Linked DNA regions of Homo sapiens: region 1 is linked to region 2. A link means that fine-mapping ties the variant in region 2 to the expression of a gene that starts in the linked region. Tissue or cell type: aorta. Region 2 holds a variant in brackets; the other region holds the start of a gene. All regions are shown on one strand. Distances are from middle to middle.

Region 1 (2,677 bases), 37 kb after region 2:
GACTGCTTCCCCTCCATTTATAGCTGGTCCTGTTGTACAAGTGGGACTGGCAGAGCTGGGGGAGATGCAGCCTCAATTCAGCTTTCTGGATCCCAGGGCCTCCCTGTTCCAGTCCCACAACACCCAGGAGCTCTAGGAGAGGGATTCTGCAGACATCCACCCACGGGTGGACAACCTCACCCAGGAGTCTAACGCCTGACCACAGAGAGGCCGGCAGCACGGACACAAGATGGACAGGTGGGCACAGGCAGAAGCGCCCGCGCTGAAACCGTTGCAGGACGCATGCACGCGGGGAGACTCCGAAGCCCTGTGTGCCAGCTCATGCCCCCACTCTCCCATCGAGGCCCCCTCACTGTGACACATGGTGCTGCCAACACCCGCTCACACCCACCCACCGGTCCTCTCCCTGGCATCCATCCCAGAGTAGTGCACGTGTACAGCAACATACACAGAGCCCTCCACTTACCCAGCTCTGGAGGCCTTCCCTGGGCTCCCCATTCCCACAGCCCAACTGCCTTCCTTGTCTTGGACCTGTCCCTGCTCCCCTGACTCTCACAACCAGGCAACTGGTCCCTGGAAGGGACACACTGGGTGTGTCTGCCCAAGAAAGGGGGCTGGACCTGCTAGGCCCTGAGGGACAGAGCTAGGGAGGGGGAGCCCCAGAACCCTGTGGGGGCTGCATGTCTGCTCAGCCCTGGCCCCTTCAAGCACCCCAGCGGCGGGCACAGGGGGAGTACTGGGCTTGGGCTTGCAGCTGCGCCCTGCCACAGCCTCACTCTTCACTCAGCCCCACCCCAGCCTGGCCAGCCACTGGCTGGGGGCAGGCTCTCCTCCCACTCCCCCTAAAAAGCAGGCTCCAAACAAACAGCCTCAGGCCCCTAAATGTACTGCTCCAACCCCCAGAGCATGTGGAGTGGTTTTGGGGAGGCCAGCGGGCCAGTATTCAGCAGAGAGGGAATGCTCCCCTGCCCACCCCGTGCCCCCACAGTCCATCCCTTCCATTGCTGGCCTGCTCAGCTAGGTAGGCCAGGCAGAGATGCTGGCAAAGAGGGGATTGGGCTGGGAGCAGTTCTCATCCTTGGGATGAGAACACCCCAGGCCCTCTTCCCCAGATCAGAAGGTTCCATTAGATCAGGCCCAGCTGGTCCCAGGGGCCGGCCCATCCTCCCACTGAACAGGGCCCACAGTGGGCTCCCCCCAGATACCCTGCTGCCACCCAAAGCCTGGCTCGCCAGCAAGCGCTGTGGCCCAGAGTGCCCACAGAGGGGAGGAGAGGCGGAGACCCTGCCACCTACCTCTTCCCAGACAGTGTGGCCCAGACGCTCTGAGGCCACAGAGGCCCGAGAGGCGTAGGCCAGATCCACGGGCTGTCACTTCCCCCAGGAGCCTAGGTAATAGGTGTCTCTTCCAGGAACCCCGCGGCGCTTCCCCGGAGCACAAATAACAGGAAAAATGCCGGCTTAGGGTGGGTGGGCGGGGTGGGAGCTGGCGAAGGAGGGGAGCTGGTCTCGGCTGAGCGGTCTGATCTCCCCTCTGGGCCCCCACCCTCCTTGCCCCCACCCTGCTTCTCTGCAACGCACGGCCGCCTGGATCCCCCGGTGCTGGGGAGTCCTCGTCTGGGGGCGGGAGGGCGGGCGGGCTGCTGGCTCCCCCACGCCCTCCCCGCGCCCTCCCCACTTCCAGCTGATAGCGTGTGGCTGGCAAGGGTGTGTGTGTGGATGTGCGCGCTCTTCCACCAGCGCTGCAGCTCAATCCATTTCAAACAAGAGGAGCATTAACCCAGCGTCATGACAAAGCAGAATCAGCCAGCACTGTCCTCTCCCTTTCCCACACCGCAGTCTGCAGCACTCACACGCACACACACACCCACACGCACCCAGAGCCCCTCAGCCTCCTCCTAAACAGCCAGAGTTCAAGTTGCTGTGGGCGGTGGGTCGAGGGAGGGGGCTACTGATGACCCAGGCGGACAATGCCTGCTTTCTCCAGGCACCTGCACCTCCTACCCTATTCATGACCACCCCACCATCTGACAGCAGCAACTGAGGCCTCTGGGGCCCAGCCTCTTGAGGTGGGGGTGCAGGCACAGGCCAGAATTGGTTACCCAAGGATGAGCTCTCTCCTGGGAGGGTAGAATGGAGGGATGCAACCAGGTCCTCAGTACTGAGACTTGAGCTGGCCCCTCAGTAACCTGAATCCCCTGGGAACTCCAATGGGATGCAGCAGAGAGAGAGAAGGACCCCATCTCTCCCTAGGGTGGCTTCATGAAAAAGGAGCTTCCTGCCTGGTAACCCCTGGGTCCCAGCACAGAATTTACAGGCATGTGCCTTCCCTGTCTCTAGCAAAGCCTCAACCACCCCAGGAGCCTCTCATTGGCCTTTCGGGCCCCCTGGGCAGGATGGGGAAGGACAACAAGCCTTGCCCTCGACCCTCGCCCTGGCCCCAATGTCCTCTCCACCTCCACACCGCAGACTTGCCTACCTAGGCAGCCCTCACCGTTGCCCTGGCAACCCTGCCCCCAGCCGGTCAGCTGATGGTATCAGCTGTTGTTGGGGAAATCTAGAATCTGGGGAGGGGGCTCTGGGGTGTCTGAATGGAGAAGCACAGGGGGAGGGGCTTGAGGGAAGAGGCCAGGAGGGGACAGAAAGTATCTGGCTGGTGGGGACAGAGAGGACAGTAA
Region 2 (2,677 bases):
GCCTCTGTTTTTCACAAAGCAGAAAAAAACATCTGTGCCACCACCTTCAGGTCTGACCCAGTCCTGCTCCCTGTACCAACGCCCTGACGGGGAAGCTACTTAGTGGGGGCTTTTGCAGTCAGAGTCTCAGTGTGTGTTTTAAAGAAAGTTCTGGTGCTTCAGGGCTAGACTTGGAGCACCCCCTAGCTTTCCTTTAAGGAACAGGAGCTTGAGTAGGGCGGCCTGCCCCACGCACTTCCAACCCTTCTGGTCTAGGGACCATTCTGGAAATGAAAGGGCTGGATGGGGGAAGCCCCAGGTGAATTTCAGCCAGTTCTGATCTGATCTTACTGAGCTGGTGGACTGAGGCTCTCCTTCAAGAGATCTTTAACCTGAAGAGATAGGTTCAGAACCAGGGGTGCGCTTTTCCCCCCCAGGGAACATGAGGCAATGTCTGGAGACCTTCCTGGTTGTCCCAATTCGGGGGTGGGGTGTGCTACTGGCACCTAGTGGGTAGAGGCCAGAATTACTGCTGCACATCCCACACCGCCCAGGACAGCCCCGCGCAGGGAAGGCTCCAGGTCCAATGCCAACTGTGCCAAGATTGAGAAACCTGGTCTAGCAGAACCCTCAGAGGGTCCCACAGATTTCTGAATTTCCTGGGCTGGCCCGGGCTGGAAAGAAAGCCTGTAGGAAAGGTGTGGGCTGGGATCAAGCCCCAGTATGAACTCCAGGAAGGGAAAAGTGAGGGATGCAGGATATGGTTACCTGGCAACCAGTCCGTATCCACCCATGGCAGCCTCATGACTGCAGAGCAGCCACTCAGATGCCATCCCCTCAGTGAGCGGTCCTGATGGGACCAGGTGCCAAGGCTTTGGCTCTTTGGGGTGTCAGCTTGGAGAGAGGGACCCAGGCATGTTACCCACCTTGGTTTTCGTTCTCCTCCTACCCCAGATCTCTACAAGGACATTGCCCCTAAGCTGGCTCAGGGGAAAGGGGAATTTATTAAATTCTTTTCTTTTGATCATTAAATCCTAGGCACAAGCACCTGGGGCCTGAAGGTCTGGAGCTGGAAGCTGGGGGAAGTGCAGCCACCTCTTCCTTGCAGAGTCAGGCCAGTGAGACCCCCAACCAGGCTACTCCTTCCTCACACAGCCTCTTTCCAAAAGGTCAGAGTGGGACCGGCAGCTAAATCATCAGGAGTGGA[G/A]TGGCCCAGGGCTCTGGGTCTTCTGTCTGTCTGGTTCTCTGTCTCCGTGAACTCGGCTCCAATTCTGAACGACTGGGCAGGTTACCTTTCCCAGGACACCTGAATGGTGACACTCTGCACACTCCTTCCTCCCCGCTCCCTCCAGGGTCCCTGGGCTGGGGAGGGCCAGGCCGCACCTGTGCTCTCGATGTAGTAGTGCGTGATGCCCTTCCAGTGCTCCACGAAGGCCTGCAGCAGGTCAATGCTGGGCTCGCGCTGCGGAGGGCAGACACACAACCTCAGTGGGGGCCACAAAGGCCAGGGAGCCCCTGCCCGCATGGGAACAGATATTCTGAGTGTCAGGTTCATGCTAGGCCTCCTCATGAGGAGGCACCCTGCTCCCTGGCTTTCAAAGGGAGGAATAACACATTTCCTCCAGGACACACTGTCATCTTGCCAAGGATCTCCTGACAGGCACTTCTCCCTAGATACCCCTCCCTCCTGGAAATGCTGTTTTCTTGCTGTATGTCACAATCCTGTCCTGTCTCTGTCCTGGAGGTGCTAAGAATGTTGCTGGGGGAAACAGACACAGATTATTTCAACACAGCATGGTTACGCTACAGTAGAGGCACATAGAGGAACACGGGAGCGCAGTCCCCCAAAGAAAAGCAAAATGATACAGATCGAAAATGTGGCAAAGGTCAGGTGCAGTGGCTCACGCCTGTAAGCCCAACAGTTTGTGAGGCAAAGGTGGGCAGACGGCTCGAGTCCAGGAGTTTAAACCAGCCTCGGCAACATGATGAAGCTCTGTCTCTATAAACAATTTAAAAACTAGCAGGACGTGGTGGTGTCTGCCTATAGTCCCAGCTACTTGGGAGGCTGGGGTGCGAGGATCACCTGAGCCCAGGGAGGTCAAGGCTTCAGTGAATTGTGATCGCAGCGCTGCACTCCAGCCTAGGTGACAAGGTGAGACCCTATCTCAAAAAAAAAAAAAAAAAAAAAAAAAAGACAAAGCTTTTCCATTCCTCTCAATCTGAGAGTCTATGAAAATCTGTTCAAGACCACCACAGGCTCTGTTCAGCCGGAAGGGTAGGTAACATTAGCATGATATTAACAATGTGCCTTCCTTATAACATGCTTACATGCTTTCATCTTGTGTCCAAAGCCTGAGCCTGCACAACCCCAACTCCTCAGCCAGTGCTGTTCTCGTTTCCTCCTCTACCGGCTCCTTCTATCAAGCCCTGGAAAATTCTGGTTCTGCTCTGGGCAAGCCCCTAACCTCCCCCTTTTCCATGAGTGCTCTCTCCATCTCTACACCATGGCTGATACTGGCCTTGCACTGAGAACAATCACTTTCCCTGAAAACTTCTCAAAAACAACAACAACAACAACAACAACACCATTCCTTCGCTTTTCTTGCAGAGTAAATGTTTTCAGGAAAAAAAGAATTCTAATCATCCCTCCCCACAGCTGTGCATTTCTGCCTCTAGGTCTTTGCTGGGGCCACTCCTC

The links. PIP is the estimated chance that this variant, and not a neighbour inherited with it, causes the effect.
Region 1: it holds the start of DMTN, and the variant in region 2 is fine-mapped to the expression of DMTN in aorta (GTEx, PIP above 0.99). The same link has a PIP of 0.9 or more in atrial appendage.

The regions. Positions count from the first base shown.
Region 1 is chr8:22,055,755-22,058,431 of GRCh38, reverse strand. DMTN (dematin actin binding protein) reads right to left here and starts at 1,618. Exons shown (of 16, transcript NM_001387751.1): 1 at 1,296-1,618. RefSeq lists an enhancer at 1-500.
Region 2 is chr8:22,093,204-22,095,880 of GRCh38, reverse strand. It overlaps FHIP2B (FHF complex subunit HOOK interacting protein 2B), which reads right to left. Exons shown (of 17, transcript NM_022749.7): 2 at 1,363-1,441. Among named protein-coding and RNA genes, the nearest start is that of FHIP2B, 5.4 kb to the right of the region's middle. RefSeq lists an enhancer at 1,366-1,866. The variant G/A (reference allele first, on the strand shown) is at 1,187.